2 separate regions of the Homo sapiens genome follow, and region 2 is reported to be linked to region 1. Evidence: microRNA targets listed by miRTarBase, many of them from high-throughput screens and not tested one by one. Region 1 holds a microRNA gene; the other region holds the end of a gene's coding sequence.
Evidence for each region. The annotated mature microRNA hsa-miR-1183 reads CACUGUAGGUGAUGGUGAGAGUGGGCA and lies in region 1 at 7,270-7,296, opposite strand. An mRNA with a match to its seed (bases 2 to 7 or 8) in the 3' UTR can be bound and repressed. Matches are read on the target gene's strand: a 7mer-m8 pairs with bases 2 to 8, a 7mer-A1 pairs with bases 2 to 7 and ends in A, and an 8mer does both.

Region 2: miRTarBase lists HECTD1 as a target of hsa-miR-1183. Seed matches in the 3' UTR shown: 7mer-m8 at 8,844-8,850.

The regions. Positions count from the first base shown.
Region 1 is chr7:21,462,148-21,478,400 of GRCh38, reverse strand. It overlaps MIR1183 (microRNA 1183), which reads right to left and starts at 7,343; the gene lies at 7,255-7,343. It overlaps SP4 (Sp4 transcription factor), which reads right to left. Exons shown (of 6, transcript NM_003112.5): 4 at 1,094-1,322.
Region 2 is chr14:31,093,160-31,109,412 of GRCh38, reverse strand. HECTD1 (HECT domain E3 ubiquitin protein ligase 1) reads left to right here. Exons shown (of 43, transcript NM_015382.4): 36 at 1-16; 37 at 1,709-1,846; 38 at 2,160-2,767; 39 at 3,745-3,823; 40 at 3,937-4,030; 41 at 6,347-6,497; 42 at 8,089-8,233; 43 at 8,346-9,296. The coding sequence ends at 8,483. It overlaps AP4S1 (adaptor related protein complex 4 subunit sigma 1), which reads right to left. Exons shown (of 6, transcript NM_001128126.3): 6 at 12,963-16,253. Among named protein-coding and RNA genes, the nearest start is that of STRN3, 75 kb to the right of the region's middle.

The DNA.
Region 1 (16,253 bases):
AAAATCCATTTCTAGGTAATTTCATATAAATACAAGAGAAATGAAAACATATGCCCACACAAACAGTTCTACACAAATGTTTACTGCAGTATTATTCATAACGGCCAGTGGGTGGATAAAACCAAATGTCCTTCAATTGACAGGATAAACAAAAATATTGTATATCCATAGAGTGGAATATTATTTGTCCCTAAAAAGGAATGAAGTATTGATCATACTGTAATATGGTTGAACCTTGAAAACATTATGCTAAAAGAAACCAGTCACAAAAGACCATGATTCCATTTATATGAATTGTCCAGAAAAGGCAAATCTATAAAGACAGAAATTAGTTGTCTAGGATGGAAGGATTGGGATAAGGGGGTGATGCTTAAAAAAGATACAGAATTTATTCTGGGGATGATGAAAACACTCTAAAATTGATTGTAGTCATGTCTACACAGCTCTGAATATATTAAAAACCACTGAATTGTACACTTTAAATTCGTGAACTGTATGGTGTACGAATGAGTTTTATATCAATAAAGTTACGTAAATATTTTATGAAAAAGAAAAAAAATGGGCTGGGCGAGGGGGCTCACACCTGTAATCCCAGCACTTGGGGGGCTGAGGTGGGTGGATCACCTGAGGTCAGGAGTTCGAGACCAGCCTGGCCCACATGGTGAAACCCCGCCTCTACTAAAAATACAAAAACTAGCCGGGTGTGGTGGCGGGCACCTGTACTTAATCCCAGCTACTCGGAAGGCTGAGGCAGGAGAATCGCTTGAACCCGGGAGGCAGAGATTGCAGTGAGCTGAGATTGCACCACTGCACTCCAGCCTAGGCAGCAGAGTGACACTCCATCTTGTTGGGGTGGGGGAGGGGTGGGGAAGAAAGAAAAAATATTTTTTAAAAGTGTAAGGAACAAGGCGGAGGACCGCTCAAATTTCATTCCTAAAATAGCCCAACTTAATTCCCTTTCTAATATTATATATCAACTTCTAGGCTACAAAGGTAATGAAGTTCTAGTGACCATCATTCCCAGCCAATTACTTGGTTTTAACTGCTGTTTTATGCCTTCCAAATAGACACAGTTGAAAAATACAGCATTTACCTTCCTTCTCCTTCCCTACAATTAGGACAGGAACAGGCAACTCTTCGAAGCCTCTTGCCAGGTTGTACCTCTTGATCAGAAGTCTGCTGGCCTTGCTGCAAATGCACTTGTGTGAGTTGGTCAGGACTAACAGCACCTATCGTGGCATTAGCAATTCCTCCAACTGCTACAGTTACAGGAGCTATAGTAGCTTGCTGGACTTTTACTCCATCTTGTCCTTGCTGCTGACCTAAAAAGGAAGAAAAAAAAGAAGTATTGTAATGTTTTCTACACCTAAAGAAAGGATTAAAAAAAAAAATCTATGTGCATAATAAATTTTTTCTAACAATCTGTGTAAAGTACAAAAACTAAGGGGTTAATGGCTTATACTATGTCAATCCTTCTAAAATATAGTATTCTTACTTTAGTGGCTCAGGTTGCCTATGTATCTAGATAACGGAACTATATACATACATCATTTAACTCACTTTGTGGCTTAATTTCTCTCTCCATCTGTAAAATGAAGATAATACTTGCCACTTACCTACTCACTAAAATACTATGAGGATACATGAGATAGTCTAAAAGCATTTTGAGATCCTAAAAGATGTTATATAAACACAAAGCTTTATTACCATTTCCACGGTAAGCAACATATCTTATCATAACAAGAAAATACAGGAGTGAAAAGTCACTAAACAAAGGATTAAGTTTTATGGACATCTTGCATTCCTAAATAGTTTAAATAAACATCTCTTTATTGATTCGACTTTTTTTAGTGTATACATAAAGTGGTTTTTGAAATGCAAAACCACCCAAGATTACTACATACTGTCACTGTAATCATAAAAAGACATTTAAGATATTATTACTTTATTCATTCATGTTATATAGCTTAGACTTCATCACTCAGATTAGTATATATACCAGCTTGGCTTCTTCACTTTGGGAAAAATATAATAAATAATGCACAATAAAACAACAATAAAAAAATCTATTGGCATGGCTTAACATTATCCTGAAATACAATGCTTTTTTTTTTTTTTTTTTTTTTTGAGATGGAGTCTTGCTCTGTCGCCCAGGCTGGAGTGCAGTAGCACGATCTCGGCTCACTGCAACCTCCACCTCCTGGGTTCAAGCAATTCTTCTTCTTCAGCCTCCCTAGTAGCTGGGATGACAGGCGTGTGCCACCATGCCCAGCTAATTTTTTTTGTATTTTTAGTAGAGACAGGGTTTTGCCATGTTTGCCAGGCTGGTCTCAAACTCCTGACCTCAGGTGATTCACCTGCTTTGGCCTCCCAAAGTGCTGGAATTACAGGTGTGAGCCACCGTGCCCGGCCTACAATGCCTTATAATTATCTTTTCTTTCACACAGTTCTACATTCTCTCCATCAGGTGTGGGAATAACAAGTATGTGAATGGACTGAAAAGAAAATACCAATTTATGAAAGAATGTTTCTACCTCAGAAAGTTGATGTAAGTATTAAGTAAATTTACAAATCCTCTACCAGAGTGCTGGCACGGAATTGCTCATTACATGGTAGCTACTGTTACCAATTCATCTCTGCTGAGTTCAGTGGCAATACAAGAATAAAATATGTCACTTTGGGAGGCTGAGATGTCAGATCACAAGGTCAGGAGATCGAGACCATCCTGGCTAACATGGTGAAACCCAGCCTCTACTAAAAATACAAAAAATTAGCCGGGCGTGGTGGCGGGCGCCTGTAGTCCCAGCTACTCGCTACTCAGGAGGCTTAGGAAGGAGAATGGCATGAACCTGGGAGGCAGAGCTTGCAGTGAGCTGAGACTGTGCAGCCTGGGCGACAGAGCGAGACTCTGTCTCAAAATAACAATAAAATATGCTAGCAGAAACAAACATACCGGTCCTGCATACAAAATAAAAGGGTTTCTTTCAGGCCAGGCGTGGTGGCTCAGGCCTGTAATCCCAGCACTTTTGGAGGCTGAGGCAGGTGGAACACGAGGTCAGGAGATGGAGACCATCCTAGCTAACACGGTGAAACCCCATCTCTATTAAAAATACAAAAAATTAGCCAGGTGTGGTAGCACACACCTGTAGTCCCAGCTACTTGGGAAGCTGAGGCAGCAGAATCGCTTGAACCCGGGAGGCAGAGGTTTCAGTGAGCCGAAATTGTGCCACTGCACTCCAGCCTGGGCGTCAAGAGTGAGACTCTGTCTCAAAAAAAAAAACAAAAAACAAAAAACAAAAAAAGGGTGGGGGAGGTTATTTCAAAGCTGCACATGTAGTACCTTAAATGTATGGGGCAACCAAGAAGAGGCAATAAAAAGTACCAAGTAAGAAAACAGTACACATTTTCTAAACAAAATTAAACCTCTGACTCTCCCAGCCAAAGTCAATCTCACTCTCCTCTGCGTATCCACAGCACCGTTAATCCTTCTGGTAGCACCCATAACTAACATGCACATTAAAAAATTTATTTTGTCACTGTTTTAGTAAGGATACAAACCCTCTACTAAAATTTACATTTTTGTACACCTTTGAATTAGCATGGTGTGGTAAGTAAAGCAATGCAAGTGAAGTGAGAGTTGTAAATTTATGACTGTGCACTCAGAGATCCTCAGTTTCCTCAACTCTAAAATAGTAACACTGACTTCCATAAAATTTCTGCTCCCTATCTACTTTAAAGAGCTGTTCCTGAGGATCAAGTTGATTTTCCAGGGGTAAAGGCTATATAAATTATAAAGCAATACATAAACAAAAGGTATAATTATTTTGTTTCAGTGTTTTTGAACATGTATTCAGTAAAACTAGATGGCTTAAGGATGACCTTGGCTACAAAATCTATTCAAACTACTTGTGTACCAAGAAGCACAGTGATACACACACTTTGTTTACTGCAAAAAATGCATTTCTAGAAATGAGAGTACTGTCTGAACAAGCACTATACAAAATCTACAGCATGGTCCCTATGGAGCTGCAGGTATTTTAAGTTGGTAAGTACCCTTTACATCCCCTGAAGACACAGGTATTTTTGGCCGTGATTCTCTGACTACTTTTCTCATAACATTTATATAACAGTCATTACTTTAAAGGTCGCAATAATATTTAAGATGACCTTTATTTTGGTAAAGAACTGCTAGATGAGTTTCAAGTCAAAGCTAAGTCTGGGGGTGAGGGGTGGGGAAGAACTGCTAGAGATTCCTGATCCCTCTGGTCCCCTGACCATGTCCTTGACACACTCCTCAAGCCTCCATATTGTGAGCATTTCTTTGTTCAATGCCTAAACAACTTGGAAAGTTATTTCAATGAATAACAGAGGCAAATTATATTTGAGTTTGTATATTGAAGCCCGTTAATTGACTTCATCTAGATGTTTCACAGACAGCTAAGTTCAACATACTGCTTTATTTCCACTGCCATCAGTAAGCCACCAAACTCCAGAGCAAGACCTCCGAGGCCCCACTTAAGTTTAATTCTATTGACTTCTCAGAGCTCATCTCTATTAGTCTCTCCCTTGCTCACTCTGCACCTGATATACTGGCCTCTCTTCTGGCCCTCAAATAAATCAAGCTCATTTCCTTCTTAGGGACTTTGCATATACTCTCCAGTCTAAGTGGGGATGCCTTTGCACCCAGATCTTTGCATAGTTGATTCCTTTGTAATATTCTGGTCTGAGTTCAAATCTCTCCTCTTTAGAAATGCCATTCCTGACCATCCCATCTAAAAGCTCCCCTCAATATATCACTGTATCATCACCTAGTTTTGTCTTATTTGTCTTAAATTACTTTGTCCTTTTATAATTTGGTCTTCACCTCACTTCTGAAGGTAAAGTGCCATGAAAGTAGGGATCTTGCCTATTATGTTCACTGCTGTATCTCTAGTACCGTAACAGTGCCTAATAACTCAATAACAGTGCCACTCAATAGCATATGCTTAATAAATCAAAGTTTAAAAATAAAAAATGATTTCATCTTCCAGTCTTGCTTCTGCTAATGTCCCTGTTTCAGTAAATGCTACCCCTATTCTCCTTGTTATCCACACTGAAAACCTTAAAATGTCATCTTTTAGGCTACTTCTTTACTCATTACATCCAGTGATGACCAAATTTTGAAGACACTACTGCCTAACAGCTCTTACGCTAACCTGTTTCCAAGCAAGATTATCATCTTGATCCAAGCCCTTGTTCAATCTGTGCCTCTACCAACCTAAATTGAGCTTTCCCTCCTTTCTCATCCTTCACACTGCTGCCAGAAAAATAAAAAAGTAGTGTTCTGATCATCTCACTTTCGTGCTCAATAACATTTAATCATTCTTCCACCGACCAAAGTCTGGCATTCAAAGCACTCTACCACAAGGACTTACTCAGCTCCTGGTTCACAGTCTTCCTTCTAATGACCAAATCTATTGTGCATTTTTTCAGTGACCATTACAGGACTGCTCTGCTGCATTTGACACCACTCGCCACTCCATCCTTATTCAATTTTGACTCTGTGAGCTAACTTCCTACATTTCAGAAACCCCTTCTTCTCTGTTAGCTCCTTTTTGTTTGGTTGCTTTTTTTTTTCTTTTTTTTTAAGAGATGGGGGTCTCACTCTGCTGTTCAGACCAGTCTTGAACTCCAGGGCTCAAGCAATTCTCCTGCCTTGGTCTCCCAAGTAGCTGAGATTACAGGCATGCACCACCATGCATGGCCTTAGCAATTTTTTAAAATCAGCACTTAAATCTAAATTTATGTCACTTTCTGAAAAGATTTATCAGCCAGGTGCAGTGGCTCACACCTGTAATCCCCGCACTTTGGGAGGCCGAGGCAGGAGGACTGCTTGAGCCCAGGAGTTCAAGACCAACCTAGGCAACGCAGTGAGATGCCATCTCTTAAAAAAATTAAAAAATTAGCCAGGCATGGTGGCATGTGCCTGTAGTCCTGGCTACTCATGAGAATGAGGTGCTGAGGTGAGAGGATCACTTGAGCCCTGGGGATCAAGACTTCAGTGAGCCGTGATGGCACCACTGTACTTCAACTTCAGCCTGGGTGACAGAGAAAGTCCCTCTCAAAAACAAACAAACAAACAAACAATCAAACAAAATACACCCTCTACTCTTCCTAGGCCACTCTCCAGGGTTCTGACTTCTCATTCTAACTCTCTTCTTGGGGGACCTCATCTACTTTCATAACTTTTACTGCTATGTGTAAGCTGATTAACTCACAGATCTGTGCCTTCCACTCAGAAGTGTCATACTCTTACTATCAACTGCCAGTGAACACTTCCACCTGAATCCTCACAAGCAATCTAAGAACCAGATAGCTTAGCCCACTTTCCTAATATAGCTCTTTTTCACCATTCAAATAGAAAATTTGGAAGTCATTCTTGATTCCTCTCTATCTCCTTCACCCTGACAACAAGAGCAACTATTGTTTTATATCTACTATGTGGTAAGGCACTTTACTGGATGTTTTCCATATATTGTTTCACATCCCTATGGGCTAAATATTACTGTCCCAAATTTTTATTTTTAATAAATGGAGTCTTGCTCTCTTGCCCAGGCTAGAGTACAGCGGCACAATCATGGCTTACTGTAGCCTCTAACTCTTGGACTCAAGCAATCCTCCTGCCTCAGCCTCCTGAGTAGTTGGGACTACAGATGCATGCCACCACACCTAGTTAATTTTTAAAATTCTTTTAGAGATTATGTCTCACTATGTTGCCCACGCTACACTCAAACTCCTGACCTCAAGTGATCCTCCTGCCTCAGCCTCCCAAGTAGCTGGGACTATAGGCACAAGCCATGGCACCCAGCTTACTGTCCCAATTAAGATGAGAAAACTAAGGTTCTCAGGGGTATGTAAAACATCCAAGATCCTAAAATGGAAAAGTGACAGAGCTGGGATTTGAACCCACACTTATCCAACTCAAAAAGCTATTCTCTTTCCACCATATACATTATCTATGTTGATCATAAGTCCCTGTTAAGTCTACCTCTTCAAAATATCTCAAATGTCTCCATTTTCACCATACCTATTGCTTGTACACTAGTGCAAGCCCTTATCACCAGTTTTGCCCCTTCTAATATTCATATTGCAGACCTAGCTCCCCAAAAAGCCAATGGGCCCTCCATACATTCACAATAAGGTCAGTATTTCTTAGCATAGTACATAAAGTTCTTCATGATCTAACTCCTGCTTAGTTTTATAACTTCATCTCTTGGCACTCCTGCTCCATGCCCACTCTCACCATCACCTACAGTGAACTCCTGTCTTCTCTAATGTTCTGTGTCTCCGAGCATTTGAATAATATAGCTGGAATCCAACACATTCTCCCACCCCAAACCTCCATCTCCCTTGGTCTGACAAAAGTCTATTCATCTTACAGATTTTAGTCTTTAATCCTTCTTACCAATGAAACTGCTTTGTAAAATAATTTTTTTAATAACTCAAAATTTCTTGGTATTGTAACTACACATTATGGTGAAACAGACTGAGGATGGCCGTTCTTTTATTTTTCTTCCACATTACCAGAGGTAAAACATTCCAAGGCTGCTTGGAGCAGCCAAGCCATCTTTCTTATTCCTTTTTTGTTCTGCTTTTTTTTTTTTTTTTTTTTCCAAATATAGAAACTGGGCCAAGGTAATGGAGGGGGACAGTTTGTTGGTAGGTAGTAAGACATCTGAATTGCTAACTATTCAACAAGATCTAGCTTGTTGGACATTTCTTGCTCATTTTCTTTTAGTACCAGTAGTTTTTTGCCTTAGTAGAGTAGTAAAATTTGAGACGACTTGAATTTAAGCTAACACGTAGAAAGGAAAGTCAGGTTTAGCTGGTAAAGGAAAAAGGCATATTCCATATAGAATAACCTAGTTCTCTGGATTGTGAGGCAGGGGCCTATGCCTAAGCCAACAAATTCTAACTTGAATTTTGGTATACCTAGCTCCCTAAGGGATCTCAAGAATTGGTTGAATTAGAATTTAAGTATTTCTGGTCTTACTAGTAAGACACCATCTCACTCCATCATAATATTAGTCATAAATTATTTCCAACAAAAGCTGCTCAAGAAAGAGGCCATCTGTGTGGTTTTTATGTCATTTGTCCTTTGGCTACCAAGGTTCCTGACACACTGAAAGTACTTAATGAATGTTTCTTAAATAAAGCGAATGATAATCTAAAATCTATACAAACATAGAAGCTTTCTTACGAAACTCGGCCAGCAGTATATCACAGGGCTGCTAAATGACAGCTAGTTTACAATACACATGCACATGGGTGACAAGACAGTAAGAAACCAAATCAAGTGGATATCTGCTACACTTCCTCCCTGACTCACTGATATGGCAGTCAGATCATTTAGAAGCAGATCCCAGAGCATAACTCTCAACCTTGGTTCTGAAACTATGTACTACTCTCTCAGGTATCAGATTTCTCCTATGACATTTGCTATCTACATTCAGCAAGGTGTTTTTTTTTTGAAAAGAGTATTATAAAAATATTAACTCTAAAAAATTATAGGCCCAGCATGGTGGCTCATGACTGTAATTGCAGCACTTTGGGAGGCCGAGGTAGGTGGATCACAAGGTCAGGAGTTTGAGACCAACTAGTCCTAGCCTGGCCAATATGGTGAAATCTTGTCTCTACTAAAAATACAAAAAAATTAGCCGGGTGTGGTGGCGGGCACCTGTAGTCCCAGCTACTTGGTAGGCTGAGGCAAGAGAATCACTTGGATCCGGGAGGCGGAGGTTGCAGTGAGTGGAGATCTCACCACTGCACTCCAGCCTGGGCGACAGAGCAAGACTCCGTCTCAAAAAAAAAAAAAAAAAAATTATAACTAAACTTGCCATTTAGGGAATAGGCTAAGATTTCTCCCTTTCTACCTATTTTGATGAAAATAAATAGTTTAGTATTACAAACACATACACTTTAAGTTTCTTTTTCTTCTGATTTTAAGAACAAAGCATGCTCACCATAGAAAACTATGAATGAGGAAATGAAATCATCCAGAAAGTAATTACCCATAGATTACCACTATTATCATTTTGATGTGATGATCTAAGTTCTGTTTTAATCTTTGTTCAATGTATTTTGATGCTGATACAACTTTACTATATAAAAATTCTGTATTATCCTCTTTTACTTATTTAGTAATATAAGTACTTCTAAGTTATTAATATTACAAATTATTTTAATAGTTGTGCAATATTTCATCATATACCATAATTTACAAAGCCATTACTGTACTGTTAGATATTTATTTCCAAATACTTATTATAAGTAACATAAAGTAATGAGCAACTTGAACTAAAATATTGTTTATTATTTCCAAGGGATAGTCCTAGAAGTGAGATTACTAAATCAAAGGACATGAAACATTTGTAAGACTATCTAGATTATAAAATTACAGGAGTATATATAAAGAGCTGCATTCATTTACATTTCCACCAGAAGTATGGGAGAATGCTGTTTCATCTCATGGAGCATGAGAAATTCAGTAAAATGTATAAAATCATTTAATAAACAAAAAATTGGATATCTCACTGTAGTTTCTAATAGAAGTGATTACTGCTCTCACCTCTAATACTGTACATTTCCTTAAGGTCTAAGCCAATGTAGTAAGGCAAGAAATAACAGATCTATATAAGAAATAAAGACTTAAAAGGAAGTAACGAAACTGTCATGATTTACAAAAGATATAATTATATTACTTAGAAAACTATAGAAAAATCAACAAATTATTATAATATGACATCTGTACATCAGCGAGATGGCCAAATACAAGAGCAACATAAAAAAGCAACAGTTCCCAACCATATCAGCAACAAACAATTGAAAAAGAAAAAAAAAAAATTCCATTCATAATAGCAACAATAACCACAAATATCTGAGAAATCAATCTAATTAGTAATATGCAAGATCTTGAGGAAGATTTAATAAAGGATATAAAACAAGACCTCAAAAGAGAGAAATATATGTTCTTGGATAGGAAGAATCATTAAACTAAATGTGTCAATTCTTCCAAAATTATTCTAGGAAGTGAATGCAATCACAAATTTAATTCGAAACTTTTCCATGAAAGTCTGCTAATTTGACATGTGAAAAATCAGCTAAGAAAAGTCTGAAAAAGCAGAATAGTAGAATAAAGATATGTAGGTAGCTACAGTAATTAAAATAAGGTGCTGTTAGCTTAGGAATAGGGACAGAAATGAACACAATTTAAAACAGATGCGTGTGTGTACACAAAATAATCCAACTGTGCCTTATTTCTTCTTTTGGAAAAGACGATTTGCAAGGTTTTTTCTTATAGTAAATAGTAAGTAACATTACTCTGTAAGTAAGACAGATCCGCAAATTTGAAAAACAAAACTATTTATCTATCTACCTATAAATAAACTCACCAACCAATAAACTGAAATTGACCTATTTAATAATAATCATACAGCAGGTTCAAAGTACATGTGTTTCTTAATTATGTTTTGTGCATATAACCTAGGGAACAAGGTTTTCTAATATAACTGATCAGGAAAAACAAAAGCTGTTGATTTCTATGATACAAAACTTGCCATGGGGGGCAGTGGGATTTTTTCTGTTCTGAATAATACTAAAATGATTCTTAACTGAGCCTACCTAGATTGACTTCCTTTACAGATTAAACTTGGAATCTGCCTAAGAAAATGTCTAAGGTCCTCTCAAAAAATATGTCTCCTAACATTGCAAATAACTTTCAATAAACACACTCTAAAATAGGATTTGGTTTACATAATGATCTGACTTAAAATAAGCAAGCAGGATGTATATTCCTAAACATAAAAAGATAACCAAATATGCTTAGGGCTGGGGAGGATAGAAAGGAGAAATGGGGAATGACTGCTAATAAGGGTTTCTTTATGAGGTCATATAAATGTTCTAAAACTAGATTGTGGTGATAGCTGCAAAACTCTATCAATATACCAAAAGCCATTGAATATACACTTGAAGTTGTTGTATAATATGGTATGGATATATATAAATAAAGTTGTTTTTTTAAAGGTAACTAGATTTAAAAAAAAATTTTTTTTTAATTCTACTTTTGTTGGCTCTAAGTACCTTTAAGCCAGTGGTTCCCAAATGAAGGTAATTTTGCCTTCCAGGAGATACTCAGCAATGTCTGGAGACATTTTTGGTTGTCACAAAGTGTGAGATTACTGGTATATAGTGAGTAGAGGCCTGGGATGCTGCTAAACATCTTACAATGCACAAAACAGACCCCAAAAACAAAGAATTACCTGGCCTAAAATGTCAATAATGCTGAGATTAAGAAATCCACTGAAACTCAGCACTGGAATAACTCAACTAACATTTATGCCTCTCATTCATATCATTATAAACAGCTATAACAAAACATATGAAAAATTAAAATATGGTACATTTGTGTGATCCCTATAAAAACTACATGAGTCTCCACAAAAACAGAAACTATATGACTGAATTAAAGCCTTTGAAAAGAGAGCTACATACATTTGGGAATAGGCTGTGACAGTTTTGACAGACATATGACTAGAGAGATTCCATGGTACACTGGTGGTAAAAAAAAAAAAAATCCTAGATTTGAAAATTATGCTTATTAATTACAAAATACTTCTTTGCCTTATGGAAGAGCTTCAATGACATGTTTTCCTGTAGATGAACTATAAATGAAAATATTAAGAAATAACCGAGTACCTTCTGTATCTCTTAAATGAAGGTGAACCCCATTAGCCAATGACTTCCAGGACTATCAACATACTATGGGTTATGTACAATCTGTGAACCAATATTGAGTTACTGAACAGGCGCAACAGTTTAGTAGAGCCGAAAGTAGAACTTTTGGGTCAAGCAGACCTGTTTCTGAGTTCTGATTCTCCCTGCAGTTTCTTCCTTTGAGGACCTGGGAGCTGTGGGAGTTGACTGAAATAGTGTATATAGCACACGTCTTAGCATAATGTCTGGAATATGATAAACACTCAAGAGGAATGTTAACTCCAGTAAAACAAACTGCAAATGTATTAAGTACAAATACTTAACAGCCATTCACATTTCCTTAAGTCCTAGCACTTTGGATGTGGACTTAGTATAGAAGTGAGATTTATTCATACAGCAAACTTCTACTGAGTACCTGCTATGTGCTTAATGCTGCTGGAGAAATGATAAATAAGATCTGACCAGAAGCCCTCACCTGTAGGGAAGACACACTCAAATAAATAATTATAATATGCACAATAACAAAAATGTGCATAAAATGCCTACTTAACAGAGAGGACAGTGATTTACTGTCAAAAAGAAACAATGAAGGCTTCACAGAGGAGATGAATCCACTGACAGGTGGAAAGAATAAAGGCAAATGGGAAGGCAGTGGGAAGGCTATATTTAAAGACATAACCCTGAGACAGCATACCACTGGAGATTAAAGTTCAAGGAGGTGAGGGGGCTAAAGATAGGGTTGGAAGGATAGATCAGGAAGGGCCTTAATTAAACCTTTTTTTTTTAAGAGACAGGGTCTTGCTCTGTTGCCCAGCCTGCAGTGCAGTAGTGCAATCATAGCTCACTGTAATCTCAAACCCCTAGGCTCAAGCAATCATCCCGCCTCAGCCCTCTCCAGTAGGACAACAGGCAAGTGCCACCATACCCAGCTAAATTTTTTATTGTGACAAGGTCTTGCTATGTTGTCCAGGCTGTCAACTTCTTAAAGAAGGGACTTTCTAGGGTAGGAGAGAGGGAATCCTTGTTAAGGTATTATGCCCATCCTTCCCATCCCCAATCCAGAATACCTGCCACACAATAATCACTCGCACTTACTCAATTTACTAAATGGCTATAATCGAACTAAACTATTTTACACCTATACTTTGTCTAATGCTGTCTTCTAAGATTTGGGGAGGTTATGCATATTTCCCAAGATTACATAGCTGCTATTAAGTGGCAAAGCTAAGATGTGAACCTAGGTCAGCCTGAATCCAGAGCCCTACACTCTTTTCTGGTTGGCTATATTCTCTCCTTAAGCACTAGGATATTATTTGGACTTTGCAGGCAACAGGGAGTTAGAGGTAAACACAGTAACACCTGTCTATCAATTCTGATGCTTGAAGGTATTGCTCTTTTGAAACTCCCTGAGCTAGGAAGGAAAGGCAACTCTAGTCATTTGGTGTTGGAGAGAAAAGCTTAGGAAAACAAAGATATACACCCTCTTTGGTACCTAGTTATTTCTATTTATTCTAATCTTGCTCCAGATAACTGTCAACTATTCTCAACTCTGTTTATGTTGAGGAAATCCTTCCTAGCCGGAAAACCCTAGAAAGATATGAATACTTTCTTTAAACAGAATTTGCCATATTTAAAACAAAACAAAAAAAATTTTCTAATTTTCCCTCATTCTACGTTGAACCATACTTGCCTAAGTTGATGGTGAAAAATAAATCAAAAAAGGAAAATCTGGCTAATTCTATGTGAAATTGTAAATAGTCTTAAAAAGTTTTAAAGCTACTTCCGGTCCTTTAGATGTACAATGAGTCACCATAGTAGTAATGCATTGCTATAGCCTCTATCACCAACTTTTATTCTACATTGGGCTCTATTACCTCTTGACAGTTTTTATAACTTGAAAAGTCTGCAATTGGAAGCCTATGAAGGTTGTGAGGAAGCTTGGCACAGTGGTGCACACCTGTGGTCCCAGCTACTCAGAAGGCTGAGACTGGAGAACTGCCTGAGCCCAGGAGTTTGAGTCTAGCCAGGGCAACACAGTAAGACCCCATCTCTAAAAAAAAAAAAAAAATAGAAAATAGATTTTTAAACAAAGATTGTGACAAACGGAGCAGGGGTGTATCAGATCTCAGTTTTAGGAAAACTCTGAAATGTCAAGAACAAAATAAACATGTGAAAACGTAGAGGCAGAGATACCAGTTAGGAAAGAAGCTATTTTACCTTCCAGATCACGAGGCTCTGAAAGAGAGCCCTGACTGGCCGGGCGCAGTGGCTCACGCCTGTAATCCCAGCACTTTGGGAGGCCGAGGTGGGCGGATCATGAGGTCAGGAGATCGAGACCATCCTGGCTAACACAGTGAAACCCTGTCTCCACTAAAAATACAAAAAATTAGCTGGGCGTGGTGGTGGGTGCCTGTAGTCCCAGCTACTCGGGAGGCTAAGGCAGGAGAACGGCATGAACCCGGGAGGCCATGCACTCCAGCCTGGGTGACAGAACTAGACTCCATCTCAAAAAAAAAAAAAAAAAAAAGAGAGCGCCCTGACAAGGGAATGAATCAGATATAAGAATAAATAATAATTATCATAATAAATAGTTGCTAGCACTTAGTGAAATCTTTTCTGTGTTCTAAGCACTGTGCAAAGTACTTTACATATCTTATCCCACTAAAGTAACATGATTTCTGCCATTTTACAGATGAGGACAGTCAGACCTAGAGAAACACTTGATCAAGATTTAAGTGGCTAAACTAAGACTTGAACCTTAGAACTATAAACTTTTAAGATAATTAATTGATAAAGATCAAATAAATCTATAAGTATTCTAATTTGAGTGATGATGATCCCATTAACAGAAATAGGGGAACCCCGGAGAGGAAGCAGGTTTGGAAAAAAAATCAGTTCTACATTCAGATGTCTCCTACAGACACAACCCAGCTCAAACTCTGTCTTCAACTAGAACTGCTCTTCCTCCAAGAAGTCAGGCTTGGCACTATCTCTTCTCCAACCACGATATTTAACTTCCTGTCCCTTTCACTCCGTTTATTTTTGAACTCAATCTTCATCCTCACTTTGTTCCCTAGTTATGTGGACACACTCTCAATCCAACCCTCCTCTGGCTTCGCTTAGCATCCGTGGTAATCCCTTGTGTCTCGCTGAACTTCTGCCACACCTGATGGTAATTCTTATCATCCACTTTCTGGTGTTCTTAGGCTGCTAAACACCAAGGAAAGAGATTACAGGAGGGCTAATAAAGCCCTAAACTTTACATTACCTGAGCCATCACTGTTGCTTGGTAACCTTTCATTCATCCTATGCTGGCAATGTACATAGCCCTTCATTGGCTGTTCCAATTTTTTTCCCTCTGTCCTCAAATCCTCATTCCCCTTTCCTTGCACCTTACAATCTGTAGATGATTTTGCCTCCTAATTTACTGAGAAGTCACCCAAAAGTATCTTTATTCTCCCTTCTATTATCAGCATCTGACTGGTTCTCCAAACATTGACTCACCTTTTTAAAATCTCATTTTAGAAGCACTTTCACTTGGGTGACAGACCCTGTCTCAAAAAAAAAAAAAAAGAAAAGTTATTTATCAGTGCTGTCCAATATGATAGCCTCTTGCCACATGTGGTAATTAGCACTTTAAATGTAGTTAATGCAACTGAGGAAATAAGTTTTTAATTTTAATTAATTTTAGGTTTATAAGCCACATGTGACCAACGGCTTTCATATTGAACAGCACAGTTCTTAGGTCTTATCAAATGATTCAAACACAAAACCTGCTGAACTTTTCTCAATACTCTCAAGTCAACATTCAATACCATCTGAGATTCCTCTTAGCTGCTGACATACTACCCTGTTCTCTTTCTATTTCTCTGATGGTTCTCACTTTTCTTAACTTTCTGCTTTTGGCCCCCAAAGACCAGGTGTAACCCTAAGTTCAGTTCTCATAATTCTGCAATTCAAACTCAAAACTGTCTGCCTCAATTTCATACACTGCCATAATTTCTACACCATCTCCATGCAAAAGACTTTCATATCTAGACTGCTGATTCTGATCTCTTCTCAGGACCAATCTCCAGATACAAACTAGACACTTTCAACATACTATTAGCTCAGACTTATTAACAAATATCAAAATTCAGGTTCATCACTTTCATTTTCTGGAAGTCATTTCTTTCAATGGCACAAGCACTTTCATGGTCATCCAGATTCAAACTCTACAGAATTACCCTTAAAATATTTTTCCTCTCTCCATTCATACATCAAATTCTTTTTTATTTTTATTTTTTTAAGACTCTTGAGAACCACATACTTTACACTCAAGTTCAGACTTCCCATCACTGATATCTGAGTCAATACTATGGTCCCGAAACTGGCTTCCCCATTTCTCCTACGTCTGTTAAAAAACAAAACTAGCTTGGGCAACATGGCAAAACCCCATCTCTACAAAATACAAAAATTAGCTGGGCCTGGTGGCAGCACACCTGTAGTCCCAGCTACTTGGG
Region 2 (16,253 bases), not on the chromosome of region 1:
GAAATCAGTTCTTGAGGTAATCTCATATAAAATTAGATTTAGGGAACAGGAATGACACTTAGGGAACCAGCCCAATGTGTATCTTCACTGCATTAAAAACTGTGGTAGGTAAACATGAAGAGGGGTTTTCCTGTTCTGTAGGCAGAAGCCTTCTCCTCTGGCAGAGCATCTTTTTCATAAGAGGATGTCAGTCCACCTCCTTAGGGGTTAGGTCTTGTGCCATTAATGAGCAACAAAGAAGATCTCCACTCTTGAGGTGGCAAAGTGCTTGTTCTGCTTGAGGGCTTCTACCCATTTCATAACAAAGTTGGACTAAAATAGTAGTACTCACAAGGGATTCTTTTTTACTTTTACATTAAACTGTGCTGTTTGATATTTTGGGAGCACCTGGTTTTGTAATATTGTTTCACTTGAATTGTGCTTGGTATTATATCACTGGTCTGTGTTGAGACATGTTATAGCAAATGGTAGTATGACATTTAATATATTTAGTTTAGAAATGTTACTGTGGACATTGTTGGTTTTATTTCATATACACAGTATTCCCTATATGAGGAAGAGTGGAAATACGTCTCCTGTCACAGGGGTGAATCCAACTGGTTTGTTTTTAACTTTTGGATCATAAACTAATTGCAAGAAATATGATACATCTCTAGAAGATGTCCAAGGCTTTACATCTTTCACTTTATATACAGACTTTCATTGTATTCCTCCTACCCTTATGTTCTTCTTCTTCTTTTTTTTTTTTTTTAATAGAGACAAGTTCTCACTATGTTTCCCAGGCTGGTCTCAAACTCCTGGGCTCAAGTGATCCACCCGTTTCGGCCTCCCAAAGTGCTGGGATTACAGGCTTGAGCCACCATGCCCAGTTGTTTACATTCTTCTAATATAGATAATCTTTTTTTTTAACCATATGCTGTAGTTTTTATTATACTTTATGCAATCACTTTAAGGGTTTTTGTCCATACTCTTCCTGTTGCAAAAATGATTTAAAGTGTCTTTAACTCAGAAATAAGCAGAAGAGGCGAGGCGCAGTGGCTCATGCCTGTAATCCCAGCACTTTGGGAGGCTGAGGTGGGTGGATCACCTGAGGTCAAGAGTTTGAGACCAGCCGGACCAACATAGTAAAACCCTGTCTCTACTGAAAATACAGAATTAGCCAGGCATGGTGGTGCATGCCGTAATCCCACCTACTTGGGAGGCCGAGGCAGGAAAATCGCCTGAACCCGGGAGGCAGAGGTTGCAGTGAGCTGAGATCGTGCCACTGCACTCCATCCTGGGCGACAAGAGTGAAACTGTCTCAAAAAATAAAAATTAAAAAGTGGAAGAGTCTAGGCTTTGGTGTCACACAGAGACACACAAAAGTCTGTTCACCATCATTTCTTCAAGCAAATGATTTAACCTCCTTATCTGAGATTTGGTTTCCTTTGGTGTAAAAAGGAAATAATTATTTTGCAGGGTTGTTGTGAGAAGTAAATGTATGAATGATGCTTGGCACAGTGCTTAAGCATGTAATAGTGTACAACAAGTGGACTCTTTAGGAAAATTAAAATAACACTTCTGTGCTGTTTATTATATATATACACTGCTATTTTGAAAAAAGGTACATTACTGGATCAGATATGATAAATTTTGACAAGAATTAGATTATTTTTAAAAACACCCCAAACTTTACGTTTAACCCACAATTTATTTGTTCATATTTTAGGTTGAATTTTTAGGAGAAGAAGGAACTGGCTTGGGACCCACATTAGAGTTTTATGCTCTGGTGGCAGCAGAATTCCAGAGAACTGACTTGGGAGCTTGGCTTTGTGATGATAATTTTCCAGATGATGAATCTCGTCACGTAAGAATATTTCTCATTTTGTGACTTGAGTTGTGACTCTGCTTTCAAAAGTGTTAAAAATAGGTTATGTGTTCAGAGCATAAGCCAGGTTTCTGACTCTACTTTTATTATTGAATAATCTTGATGCAATTAAAATAGTTCTAAAGCGATAAAATTTAGTCACCAAAAGCTATTTAATAAAATTATATACTTTTAGATAGCCAAATTCATGAAGATGTTTAATGTTTATGGATTTTTTTCTTAGATGATGATAGGCTTAGTTTCTATTAACTTTTGTTTAATTTTATTTGCATTTCACCCTCTAAAAAATTAGGTTGATCTTGGAGGTGGATTGAAACCTCCTGGATATTATGTGCAGAGGTCATGTGGACTGTTCACAGCACCATTTCCACAGGATAGTGATGAGCTTGAAAGGATCACGAAACTGTTTCATTTCCTTGGAATTTTCTTGGCCAAATGCATTCAAGACAATAGACTTGTGGACTTACCTATTTCTAAACCTTTTTTTAAACTTATGTGTATGGGTGACATTAAAAGCAATATGAGTAAACTGATTTATGAGTCACGAGGTGATAGAGACTTACACTGTACTGAAAGTCAGTCTGAAGCTTCTACAGAAGAAGGTCATGATTCACTCTCGGTAGGAAGCTTTGAAGAGGATTCAAAATCAGAATTTATTCTTGATCCCCCTAAACCAAAACCCCCAGCTTGGTTTAATGGAATTTTGACTTGGGAAGACTTTGAATTAGTAAACCCACACAGAGCCAGATTTTTAAAAGAAATTAAAGACCTTGCTATCAAGAGGCGCCAAATTTTAAGCAACAAAGGTCTTTCTGAAGATGAGAAGAACACAAAATTACAGGAACTAGTGCTGAAGAATCCATCAGGTTCTGGGCCTCCACTTAGCATAGAGGATTTAGGGTAAGCATTATATGTACATTCTTCAATCCAATGCATGAATAAGTTTTAAAGCTTTTGTTTCTTTGTCGTCACTGATTTGCAATATATGAGTAAATAGTCTGTCAAAAACAGTAATATGCTGTAGGAAATATTGATGATCGACTTGAACCTTTGATTTAATATTATAAAGACAACACTCAGAATACTAGAATATTAGTTTATTAATCATCAAACCTTTAGAAGATTACCTGACTTAGCCAATGTGAATTTATATGCCTGTGTAAAATGTCCAGAGCCAACAATATTTTGACAAATTCATCTGCTAATATATGATTCACTTTGCAAAGCTCAAAAATTGGTTGGTATGTCAGCTTTATCACCAAAGGCTGTAGCAGTTGAGATGCTGCAGAACTTTTGATAAAACTCTGTTACTTTATGTACAGGTAATTATCATATCTTCAGCTGTGATTTTAGGTTAACTGCAAGGCCTTTTTTTTTTAATGTTTGCTGATAATGTTGGTAAACTGTGTTTGATAAATGGTTATATATTCAAGGTTTTTTTTAATATATATTTTTGTACACAGCGTGATTGACTTCAGTAAAGCAACAGTTTCTTCCTAAAAGTCTTACAAACATGTTGCTGTCATAATTCATTGCAAAATTTTTAGTTCATTAATTTTGTGCCATAAGTTAGAAGTAAAATATAGAAAGGTGGTTTCATGCAATCTTTGCAAAGCCAGACAGATTTGATAACAGTTGGCCTAGTAGATTTTGTCCATAGAATATTGCATTTAAAAAGTCCTCAACTTACTTCTAAGCTGGTGTACTGATTTTGTTGGAGGAGGAGAGGGGTGGGATTTATGGTTTTGATAGCCATGTTATTTTATTTAATTTTTTCTCTTGTACCCACTGATGGCAGATGATAGTAATGTTATAAAAATTAAACACCATTAGTAGTAGCTGCATGTCAGTTAATTTAATCTTTTTTGTCCTCCCAGTTTAAATTTCCAGTTTTGCCCTTCCTCAAGAATATATGGTTTTACAGCTGTGGATCTCAAGCCAAGTGGTGAAGATGAGGTAAAAAGTTTGCTTTTAATATAGTTGTAAGTTCTGACATATCCTCTTAGCAAGGCCAGTTGTACTAGACACTCCTGAAATATTCCTAGATACTGACAAATTTTCTTTTGCAGATGATAACAATGGATAATGCAGAAGAATATGTGGATTTGATGTTTGACTTTTGTATGCATACGGGTATTCAGAAACAAATGGAAGCCTTTAGAGGTAATTTTAAAGGATTTTTAGCATAATTGCTCTCCTTTCACTTTGAGACAGTTGAAATTATGGTCAAGAATTGCTGGTGGTCGGCTGGGCACGGTGGCTCACACCTGTAATCCCAGCACTTTGGGAGGCTGAGGCGGGAGGATCACCTGAGGTTGGGAGTTCGAGACCAGCCTGACCAACATAGAGAAACCCTGTCTCTACTAAAAATGCAAAATTAGCTGGGCATGGTGGCGCATACCTGTAATCCCAGCTACTGGGGAGACTGAGGCAGGGGAATTGCTTGAACCCGGGAGGTGAGGTTGCGGTGAGCCGAGATCACACCATTGCACTCCAGCCTGGGCGATGAGCAAAACTCCGCTGCACAAAAAAAAAAAAAAAAAAAAGAATTGATGGTGGTCGGGTGTGCGGGTGTGGTGGTGGCTCACACTTGTAATCTCAGCACTTTGGGAGGCTGAAGCAGGAGGATCGCTTGAGCCCAGGAGTTCCAAGACCAGCCTGGGCAACATGGCAAGACCCCATCTCTACAAAACATTTTTTAAAAAATTAGCTAGATGTGGTGGCACGTGCCTGTGGTCCCAGCTACCTGCAAGGCTGAAGTGGGAGAATAGTTTGAGCCTGGGAGGCTGAGGCTGCAGTGAGCCATGTTTGTGCCACTGCACTCCAGCCTGGGCAACAGAGGGAGACCTTGCCTCAACAAAGAAAGAAAGAAAGTGGACATAGGTTGCATACATTCTAGATTACTTGATCAGGATGAATTAACATGAAAGAATCATGATGGGAACAAAGTATATTACAAGGTAAATTACTTTTGAAAATGAGAACACAGTTTTGCCTGACTTGTATGACAGAAAGAGCTGGTGAACTCCAGACTGAGTAGTAATAAGAATTTGCATACTGACCATAGCAACTGAATGTTCTCTCTCTGTTCACGTTTGTGATGTTAAGCAGGGATTTCTAATTTAAAATACAGTTTTAATTTCAAGCTGTCTTAATTTATGCTTGTTTATTCAAACATTTATGAATGTTGAATATTCATCTTCTGTCCATTTCATCGGTAATGGGTATTTTTTTATTGTTGCATAATATATGTACATGTTTATGGGGCATTTTGATACACAGAATGTGTAATGATAAAATCAGTCTTTAGGACATCCATCATCTTGGACATTTATCATTTCTATGTGTTGGGAACATTCAAATTATTCTCTTCTAGCTTCTTTGAAATATATATTATTGTTAACTATAGTCACCCTACTATGCTAGAAAACATTAGAACTTACTCCTTTTATTTAATTGTAAGTTTGTACCCATTAAACTACCTCTCTTCATCCACCCCCACATGCAACATTCCCAGCCTCTGATACCATTCTTTTCTTTACCTTTATGAGATCAACTTTGTTGTTTTTGTTTTTTTGAGACGGAGTTTTTGCTCTTGTTTCCCAGGCTGGAGTGTGATGGCACGAACTCGGCTCACTGCAACCTCCACCTCCTGGGTTCAGGCGATTTTCCTGCTTCAGCCTCCCGAGTAGCTGGGATTATAGGCATGCACCACCACACCCGGCTAATTTTGTATTTTTAATGGAGATGGGGTTTCCCCATGTTGGTCAGGCTGGTCTCGAACTCCCACCCTCAGGTGATCTGCCCACCTCGGCCTCCCAAAGTGCTGAGATTACAGGTGTGAGCCACCTTGTCCGGCCAAGATCAACTTTTTAAGTTCCCACATATGAGTGGGAACATGTGATACTTGTCTTTCTGTGCTTGGCTTTTTTCACTTAATATAATGACCTCCAGTTCCACCCATGTTCCTACAAATGAAAAGATTTCATTCTTTTTTTTTTTTGAGACGGAGTCTCAGGCTGGAGTCCCAGGCTGGAGTGCAGTGGTGCCATCTCGGCTCACTGCAAGCTCCGCCTCCTGGATTCACGCCATTCTCCTGCCTCAGCCTCCCGAGTAGCTGGGACTACAGGCAGCCGCCACCACGCCCGGCTAATTTTTTGTATATTTAGTAGAGACGGGGTTTCACTGTGTTAGCCAGGATGGTCTCAATCTCCTGACCTCATGATCTGCCTGCCTCGGCCTCCCAAAGTGCTGGGATTACAGGCGTGAGCCACCGTGCCCAGCCCATTCTTTTTTATGGTTGCATAGTATTCCATTGTGTACATATACCACATTTTCTTTACACATTCATCCCTTGATAGATACTTAGATTGATTCTGATAATGGGTATTTTGGTTTGAAATTTGGTATTTTGGAATCGTAACTTGGAAACTGAGTTGTATGTTTGTTTTTTGTGTTTCCGTTACATGTACGATGTAGATGGGTTTAATAAAGTTTTTCCAATGGAGAAATTAAGTTCCTTCAGCCATGAAGAAGTCCAAATGATTCTTTGTGGAAACCAGTCACCATCCTGGGCAGCAGAGGATATTATCAATTACACTGAACCTAAGCTGGGTTATACACGTGACAGGTATGTGATACTATTTTCCAAGATCAACAAAATTATTTATATTCCCCAAATCAAATGACAGATTCTCTAAAGAACTTTAATTCAGTGAGTATCATAAAGTAAGTGAGAAAGCAGTGGTGTCTCACAGTTACCAGAATGCATATCCACTGATAAGGCTGGGAGGATACAAAAAGACAACTGACAGCAGGCCGGGCGCGGTGGCTCACACCTGTAATCCCAGCACTTTGGGAGGCTAAGGCGGGCGGATCACTTGAGGTCAGGAGTTTGAGACCAGCCTGGCCAACACGGTGAAACCTCGTTTCTACTAAAAATACAAAAATTACCTGGGCGTGGTGGCAGACGCCTGTAATCCCAGCTACTTGGGAGGCTGAGACAGGAGAATCACTTGAACCCAAGAGGTGGAGGTTGCAGTGAGCCAAGATCATGCCATTGCACTCCAGCCTGGGCAACAAGAGTGAAACTCTGTCTCAAAAAAAAAAAAAAAAAAAAGACAACTGACATCATGGCTGATGTTGATTCCTTTCCTCATTGTGTTTTAATTGTTCATTTTTAAAATTTGGTAAATTGTAAGCTGTTGGGCTATATACTACGTTTATATTAAACTTTTTATTGAATATAACAGATAAGTACACACATCATATATACAGTTTAGAGGATTTTGTCAAAATGAACACACCTGTATAATTGGTATCCAGAATATGAAACAACTTCAAAAATCCCCCTTCCCACCATATTCTTTTCTATTAATCTAATCACCATATGTTGATCAGTTTTGCTTGCTTTTGAACTTTTAATATATGAAATCATGTAGTCTGTTTTCTTTGTGGTCTGGTTTGAGTAATATTATGATTATGAAATTTATCCATGTTGTGGCATGTCGTTCATTTACTATTTCATTACATAAATTTATCACAAGATAATTATTTTGCTGGAATAAAAATTATTTCAGATCCCCTTTGGTATATTTATCCATATTTGAAATGATTTTGCAAGTGCATCCTGTGTTTTTATGATTTGCTGACTTTGTTGCAGAATAGATGGACCCCATACACTGTCAGTATTTTTTAGTTCTTACAATTTGTAAGTTCAAGACAGTCTTTGAGGGATTTTTATTTTTATTTTTGAGATGGAGTTTCGCTCTTATTGTCCAGGCTGGAATGCAATGGCACAATCTCAGCTCACTGAAACCTCTATCTCCCAGGTTCAAGCGATTCTCCTGCCTTAGCCTCCCAAGTAGCTGGGATTACAGGCGTGCGCCACCACGCCCAGCTAATTTTGTATTTTTAGTAGAGATGGGGTTTCACCATGTTTGTCAGGCTGCTGTTGAACTCTTGACCTCAGATGATCCACCCGCCTCAGCCTCCCAAGGTGCTGGGATTACAGGTATGAGCCACCACACCTGGCCCGGGATATTTTTAAAGTAGCTTATATTAGCCCATTTCATACTTAACCAAGAGTCTCTAGATGTGTTGTTGTTCTGGTGTGAGGATATTGTTTTTTAGGGGGCTTGTTGCTGCCTTAGAAAATAGTGGTAGTGATTTTCATTTAAATCTGCAGTCAACTCAATATAACTATATTTTTGTTCTTTTAGCCCTGGTTTCCTGAGGTTTGTGAGGGTTTTATGTGGCATGTCTTCTGATGAAAGGAAAGCATTCTTGCAGTTTACCACTGGTTGTTCAACTCTACCCCCAGGTGGACTGGCTAACCTGCATCCCAGGCTCACGGTTGTACGCAAGGTACAAGCTCTCTGGCTAATGGGGAATCCAAATGAAATTTAGTTACTTTACTTTTGAAAGAAAGAAGTATTTAAACTCATGGTCTTCTGTTGTGTTTGCTTTCTTGTTGTAGGTTGATGCTACTGATGCAAGCTATCCATCAGTCAATACATGTGTGCATTACCTTAAGTTGCCTGAATATTCTTCCGAGGAGATCATGAGAGAGCGCCTGCTAGCTGCTACAATGGAGAAAGGCTTTCATCTCAATTGAGCTTTGAAGTGCAATGGGAGACATCAGAGACTTTAAAAATACTAGTGAAGCCTCTTGTGTTTGTGTGCAGAGAAGTATATGATCCACCATGCTAATGACACTTGCCTTTTTTTCCACCATTAAGGCTTTAAGAACATGTGGAATAAGTTTTTTAGCTGCTAATGACAAAACAAATCCTGTAACTACCCAGCCAGCAAGTATATAGCACAGAACACTGTGTTACTTTACAAGGGCTTATGTGACTGGAATAAGGTGGTCCCACTTGACTGTTCCAAAGAGCAGCTTCTCAGATCTTCAGTGTTCACTGGTAAATTTCTAACAGTGTATTTGTGTAAAGTTTGTCATTTCATACTCCATACACTACAGTTGCTGTCACTGATCCCTGTTTTGCTGGCTTTTAAGCTACTTGGTCAAAAATCCTGCTTCCTTAAAACATAGAGAATTAATGAGCATCTCAAGCTTTTTCTTTTCCTTTTTAATGATGCCTGCACTATCAAGAGTATTCTAGTGTTCTCTCTTTGTTTGGCATATAATCATGCACCAAACTTTTTATTTCTTTAAGGTGGGAGTATATTTTTATTTCCTAAATGCCATACTATGAAGATCAAAGTCTTAAGTGTGTTTGCAGCTCAAAAATAAAGATGTATTAAGGGGGGAAAACCTGGTCTAAGTGCAAGGCACACTTACAGCGAGTTTTACTTTCGGTTGTATTTTCTTTGTATATTATAAACATTTATTTAACTTGTTGCCGTTTGAAGTAAAAAATTTCCAAAATGTATGCTCAACAATAATCATTAAAATGTTTGCAGCGTACAGAACTGTGTCATGTGACTATTTCAATGCAGTCATCAGACTTAAGAGCTTTAGCAGGTACTTGTCATTTTGAATCATCCAAAGTTTTCTGAAATTACTACATAAAGAAATGTGTTTTTCTATAGTAAATACGGGTATTAAAATTGAAAGGCTAGAAGAAATATATATTCACACACTTGTGATCCAATGGTTGGGTTCAGTTTTAAAGTATGCCTCAGCTAGAACTGACCAGTTACTTGTGTTATTTTTTTAAAAAAACACCAGATCCACAACTTAACTATTGTATCTATAAGGATATATAAGTAAGGATGTAAGTGAGATCCAAGAATGATTTTTAAATGTTGTGTGTCAAAACACGGGGATACCGCTGTTTTCTGGTTTTGAAGAAGGGACTGTATTTCCAAATTCCAAAGTAGATTTTCCAAATTCCAGTTATTACCATATCTGTGCTTATAGGTGAAAGGAAAGACACTAGGCCTGATTTAGCCAAATAGCTTTTTTTTTTTTTTTTTTTTCTCTTAAAGACAGGCTCTTGCTGTGTTACCCAGGCTGGTCTCAAACTCCTAGGTTCAAGCAGTCCTGCCACCACAGCTTCTGGAGTAGCTGGGATTACAGATGTGTATCACCACACCTGGCTCAAATGGTTTTTTAAGGAACCAAAAGCATGTTTGAAATTGCCCAGTATCGACCTGTTTAAAAGGCAAATTCTCTGCCTATGAGAGATATCTTCTGCTATAATTACAAGTCTCTAAGATGTCTATCAGTAGTCAGCTTTTACCAAGACTAGCCTGGCACCAGGGTTAGCGAACTATGGCCTGCTGCCTGTTTTTGAATGGCTCATGGCTAAGCATGGCTTTAAAATTTTTTAATTGTTGGGGAAAAAAAATCAAAAGAATAATATTTTATGTGAAAATTATGAAATTTAAATTTCAGTGTCCACAAATAAACACAGCCACGTACATTCATTTACATGGTTGCTTTTGCACTTCAATGGCAGAATTGAGTAGTTAGCAGAGACCATATGGTCCACAAAGCCTAAAATATTTACTATTTGGCCTTTTACAGAAAAAGCTTGCTGAACCCTGGTCTGGCAGGTAGCTACAGCAGATAAATTGATAACTTTACATAAAATAGGGCAGGGCACGGTGGCTCACATCTGTAATCGCAGCACTCTGGGAGGCCGAGCAGGGTGGATCACCTGAGATCAGGGGTTTGAGACCAGCCTGACCAACATGGTGAAACCCTGTCTCAACTAAAAATATAAAAATTAGCCGGGCATGGTGGCACATGCCTGTAATCCCAGCTACTCTGGAGGCTGAAGCAGGAGAATTGCTTGAACCCAGGAGGCAGTGGTTGCAGTGAGCCGAGATTGTGCCATTGCACTCCAGCCTGGGCAACAAGAGCGAAACTCTGTCTCCGAAAAAATAAAAACAAAAAGTTTATATAAAATCATAGCTGTTTTTGAAATATTAGGAGTCTTCCTCAGAAAAAGTCCAAGAACAAGGTAAGGCTGGCCAAATATAAGTATGAAAAGTCACTTAAAGCATCTTAGTGAAGTTATATGGCGACACAGCCTGTAAGAACACATATGCATGAGTCAAGTGTTCTGAGACATCTACCGGGGTCTCCACCTCAACTGTAAGTTCTTAAATATTGTTTCCTATGATACCTACCAACTATTTTTTTTAACTGTTATTCTCTCAAGGTTCTAAAATCTGTGCCGAGATGTAATTCAACTACTATTTTGGTGTGACCCAAAAATTAATTTTGTTCACTCCCTAGCTACTCTGGTGTACCAGTTTCAGCAGTTACCTGAATGTGCAACTGATGAAGTACCTACCAACTAGGACAGTGTTTCCCAGCTAATGTGTCTGAGAAAGACCCTCCATAGCACTTCGGTCTACGCTGGGCTTTCCCCAGACCTTGGCTACTTGATACAAAGGTGTATCTGTACACACAGACCACTCACTGTTCCCACAGGTCAGAAGCCTTCCTTTTGCCTTCCTGAACGAGTCCAAAAACAACTCAGGTTTGGAGTCCACTATTGACTGACTGCATTTTTATAGACATAAACCTTGATATTGCAAGTGGATTTTGAGAACAGGATAAAAAAAAGCTCCACTGCCTACCCCCCACAATACACAGACAAACCAAACGGAACAGTGCTGAATGATAACTCTGAAACGTGCATTTGGCCAGGCGTGGTGGCTCACGCCTGTAATCCCAGCAGTTTGGGAAGCCAAGGCGGGCGAATCACTTGAGGTCAGGGTTTTGAGACCAGCCTGGCCAACATGATGAAACCCCATCTCTACTAAAAATACAAAAATTAGTCCAGTGTGGTGGCACACGCCTATAATCCCAGCTGCTCGGGAAGCTGAGGCAGGAGAATTGCTTAAACCTGGGAGGCAGAGGTTGCAGTGAGCTGAGATCATGCCACTGTATTCCAGCCTGGACAACCGAGCGAGACTGTCTCAAGAAAAAAAATGCATTTATGTCCTATTTTAGAGGCTGGAGTGTCACAGAAGAATGAACTATTGGATCATTCCATAGGCTGGGACAGTATCTTAATATACCAAAAATAGACTTTGGCCGGGCAGGGTAGCTCATGCCTGTAATTCTTGCACTTTGGGAGGCTGAGGTGAGAGGATTGCTTGAGCCCAGGAGTTTGAGACCAGCCTGGGGAACATAGTGAGACCCCGTCTCTATATTTAAAGGAAAAAGATTTCTACTTTCTTCATTGCACCTGACCTCCCACCCCTACATGCATATATATAGTAGACCTCCCTATTCTTGGGGGATAAGTTCTAAGACCCCCAGTGGATATCTGAAACTGGGGATATCTGAAACTGAGGATAGTACCAAATCCTATATATAGAGAGAGAAAGAGAATGTTTTTTCCTATACATACATACCTATGATAAAGTTTATAAATTAGGCACAGTAAGATTAACAACAATAATAGAACAATTATTACAATATAAGAAAGTTATGTGAAAGCTGGGCATGGTGGTGTGCACCTATAGCTCCAGCTACTTGGAAGGCTGAGCAGGAGGATGGCTTGAGCCCAGGAGTTCAAATCCAGCCTGGGTAACAGAGACCCCATCTCTTACAAAACAAAAGATGGCCAGGTGTGTTAGCTCATACCTGTAATCCCAGCACTCAGAGGCTGAGGTAAGGAGGATCGCTTGAGCCCAGGAATTCAAGACTAGCCTGGGCAACATATGGAGACCTTGTCTCTACAAAAAATAAAAAAAATTAGCTGAGTGGGGTGGCACACACCTGTGGTCCCGGCTACCTGGGAAGCTGAGATGGGAGGATTGCTTGAGCCCAAGGGGTTGAGGCTGCAGTGAGCCGTAATCATGCCACTGCACTGCAGCCTGGGCAACAGAGCAAGACCCTGTCTTTAAAAAAAAACGAAAAATAATTTTATATATATATATGTATATGCATGTAGTCTCTCTCAAGACCTTATTGCACTGTACTCACTCTTCTCATGATCTGTCCATCTGGTAACCAAGACAGTTACCAAATGACTGTCAAGTGGGGAGTGTATACAGCATGCATATGCTGGACAAAGGGACGATTCACCTCCCAGGCAAGACGGAGCGGGACAGAGCAGGACAAAGTGGGATGGTGCAAGATTTCATCACACTACTCAGAATGGCATGCAGTTTAAAACTTATACATTGTTTATTTCTGGAATTTTCTGTTTAATATTTTGGGACCTCAGTTGACCATGAGTAACACAAACCACAGAATGCGAAACAGTGGATAAGAGAGGGACTACTGTACATACTTTCGCCTAAGACAGTTCTGTATATTCTTCTGTTAACGGGGTAGCAAAAGCATATAGAAAGGTTTTGGGGGGATGCAGTGCATTGCTCTTCTGTAATGACAGTAATTTACTTCAAGACATTGCAGGAGAAGGGGTTAAAGGAGTAAAGGGGAGGAAGAGAAGGATTCATTTCATGCCTACCTGTACAGAGACACTTTCTTGCTTTCTACTTTTTTTTTTTTTTTTTTTTTTGAGACGGAATCTCACTCTGTGCCCAGGCTGGAGTGCAGTGGCACAATCTCGATCTCAACTCACTGCAACCTCTGTCTCCTGGGTTCAAGTGATCCTCCTACCACAGCCTCCCAAGTAGTTGGGATTATAGGCGCGTGCCACCATGCCCGGCTAATTTTTCGTAGTTTTAGTAGAGACAGGGTCTCACCATGTTGGCCAAGCTGGTCTTGAACTCCTGACCTCAAATGATCTACCCACCTTGGCGTCCCAAAGTGCTGGGATTATAGGCGTAAGCCACCATGCCTGGCTGCATTCTACTTTTAAACTTTGAACTAAATTTCATTAACAGTAAGCTTATTAATAAGCAAACCTTTTAAAATGTGGCATAAAAAGACTGGGCACAGTGGCTCAGGCCTGTAATCCCAACACTTTGGAAGGCGAAGGCAGATGGATCATGTGACTGCAGGAATTCGAGACCAGTCTGGGCAACATAGTGAAACCCTATCTCTACAACAAAATACAAAAATTAGCTGGGTGGAGGGGGTGCGCACCTGTGGTCCCAGTTACTCAGGAGGCTGAGGTGGGAGGAGCACCTGAGCCCAGGAGGTACAGGCTGTAGTGAGGCATGATCACACCACTGCACTCCAGCCTAGGAGACGGAGATGCTGTCTCCAAAAAACAAACAAAAAACGGGATAAAGGATAGCTGTAGGGGCTCTCTGGGGCTGTCTTAATGTCTGACCATCCATTATTTGAAAGTAATGTTCTCTATAGAGTTAATTACATAATGGCATTGTAATTACTAAGTGCCCTTAAAATGAGTATCAAAGGCTTTTACAAACTGGCAAATAAAATTTAACTCTGCATCTTTGTTAGGTACATGTTATAAAAGTTTTTTTGTTTTGTTTTTGTGTTTTTGAGGCAGGGCCTCACTCCATTACCCAGGTTGGAGTACAGTGTTGTGATCATAGTTCACTGCAGCCTCAAACTCCTAGGCTTGATCAATTCTCCCATCTCAGCCTCTTGAGTAGTTAGGAGTACAGGTGCTCACCACCACAGCTGGCTAACTTTTTAATTAGTTATTTACTTATTTTTAGAGACAGGGTCTCACTCTGTCGCCCAGGCTGGAGTGCAGTGGCATGATCTCGGCTCACTGCAACCTCTGCCTCCCGGGTTCAAGCAATTCTACTGCCTCAGCCTCCTGAGTAGCTGAGATTAGAGGTGCTTGCCACCATGCCTGGCTAACTTTTTGTATTTTTAGTAGAGACAAGGTTTTGCCATGTTGGCCAGGCTGGTTTCAAACTCCTGACCTCAAGTGATCTGCCTGCCTCGGCCTCCCAAAGTACTAGGATTACAGGCATGAGCCATCACACCTATTTATTTTTTGTAGAGATATGGTCTTGCTGTGTTGCCCAGGCTGGTCTTGAACTAATGGGCTCAACCAATCCTCCTGGCTTGGCCCCCCAAAATGTTGGGATTACAGGCCTGAGCCACCGCACTCGGACTTTTTTATTTTTGAGACAGGGTTTCACTCTGTCACCCAGGCTGGAGTGCAGTGACACGATCATAGCTCACTGCAGACTCGAACTCCTGGGCTCAAGAAATCTTCTGCCTCAGACTCCCGAGTAGTTGAGACTACAGGTATGTGCCACCACACCCGGCTGATTTTTGCATTTTTTGTAGAGATGAGGTCTATGTTGCCCAGGCTGGTCTTGAATTTCTGGCCTCAAGCGATCCTCCTTCCTCAGCCTCCCAAAGTGCAGGGGTTACAGGTGTGAGGCACTGCACCAGCCCCACATTACAAAGCTTTTAGAGCCAGGCCAGGAAGGTTCAAGGTTGTAGTACAACATGATCATGCTTGTGAAAAGCCACTGCAGTCCAGCCTGGACAACACAGCAAGACCTGCTTCTCTTAAAAACAAACAAACAAAAAACACCTCTTGGCTGGGCATGGTGGCTCATGCTTGTAATCCCAGCACTTTGGGAGGCTGAAGCAGGTGGATCACTTGAGGTCAGGAGTTCAAGAACAGCCTGGCCAACATGGTGAAACCCTATCTCTACTAAAAATACAAAAATTAGCTGGGCTTTACATAAAACCGGGCAGGGCATGGTGGCTCACATCTGTAATCACAGCTCAGTCTCCTGGGGACTACATGCCTGTAGTCGCAGCTACTCAGGAGGCTGAGGCAGGAGAATTGCTTAAACCCAGAGGTGGAGGTTGCAGTGAGCTGAGATCACACCACTGCACTCCAGCTTGGGTGACAGAGCAAGACTCCGTCTTAAAAAACAAAACAAAAAAACAAACAAAAAAACACCTCTTAAAAAGTTAATTTTACTAAGCCTTTTAAAGGAATAAGACAGCCTTCAGAAGTCAGGCACTGTGGCTCATCTGTAATCCCAGCGTTCTGGGAGGCTGAGGCAGGCAGATCACCTGAGGTCAGGAGTTTGAGACAGCCTGGCCAACATGGTGAAACCCTGTCTCTACTAAAAATACAAAAATTAGCCAGGTGTGGTGGTGCATGCCTGTAGTCCCAGCTCGGAGGCTGAGGCAGGAGAATCGCTTGAACCCCGGAAGTGGAGGTTGCAGTGAGCCGAGAATGTGCCAGGTGACACAGCTAGACTAGACTCCGTCTCAAAAAAAAAAAAATAGCTTTCAGAAAACAGCGTTACTCAAAATGCCTTGTGTTTAAATTTTAAAACTTTATTGGCTGACGGAAAACTGCCATACTTTCTTCCCACTACCATCCTGCTATTCCTGAATTCAATTTGCAAAAGAAGCATAGACCAAGAAGGGTTCCTTAGGTGCTCAACAGAATTTAAAGTGCGACAGATATGTTTACAATTAGAAAATAAAACTTCTCTCTCAGTTTAAAGAAATTTTTTTCTTTGTACATATTTTAAAGTACAGTTGTGTTTTCTTTTTAGGAACTGTGGAAAATGCCTATTTATAATG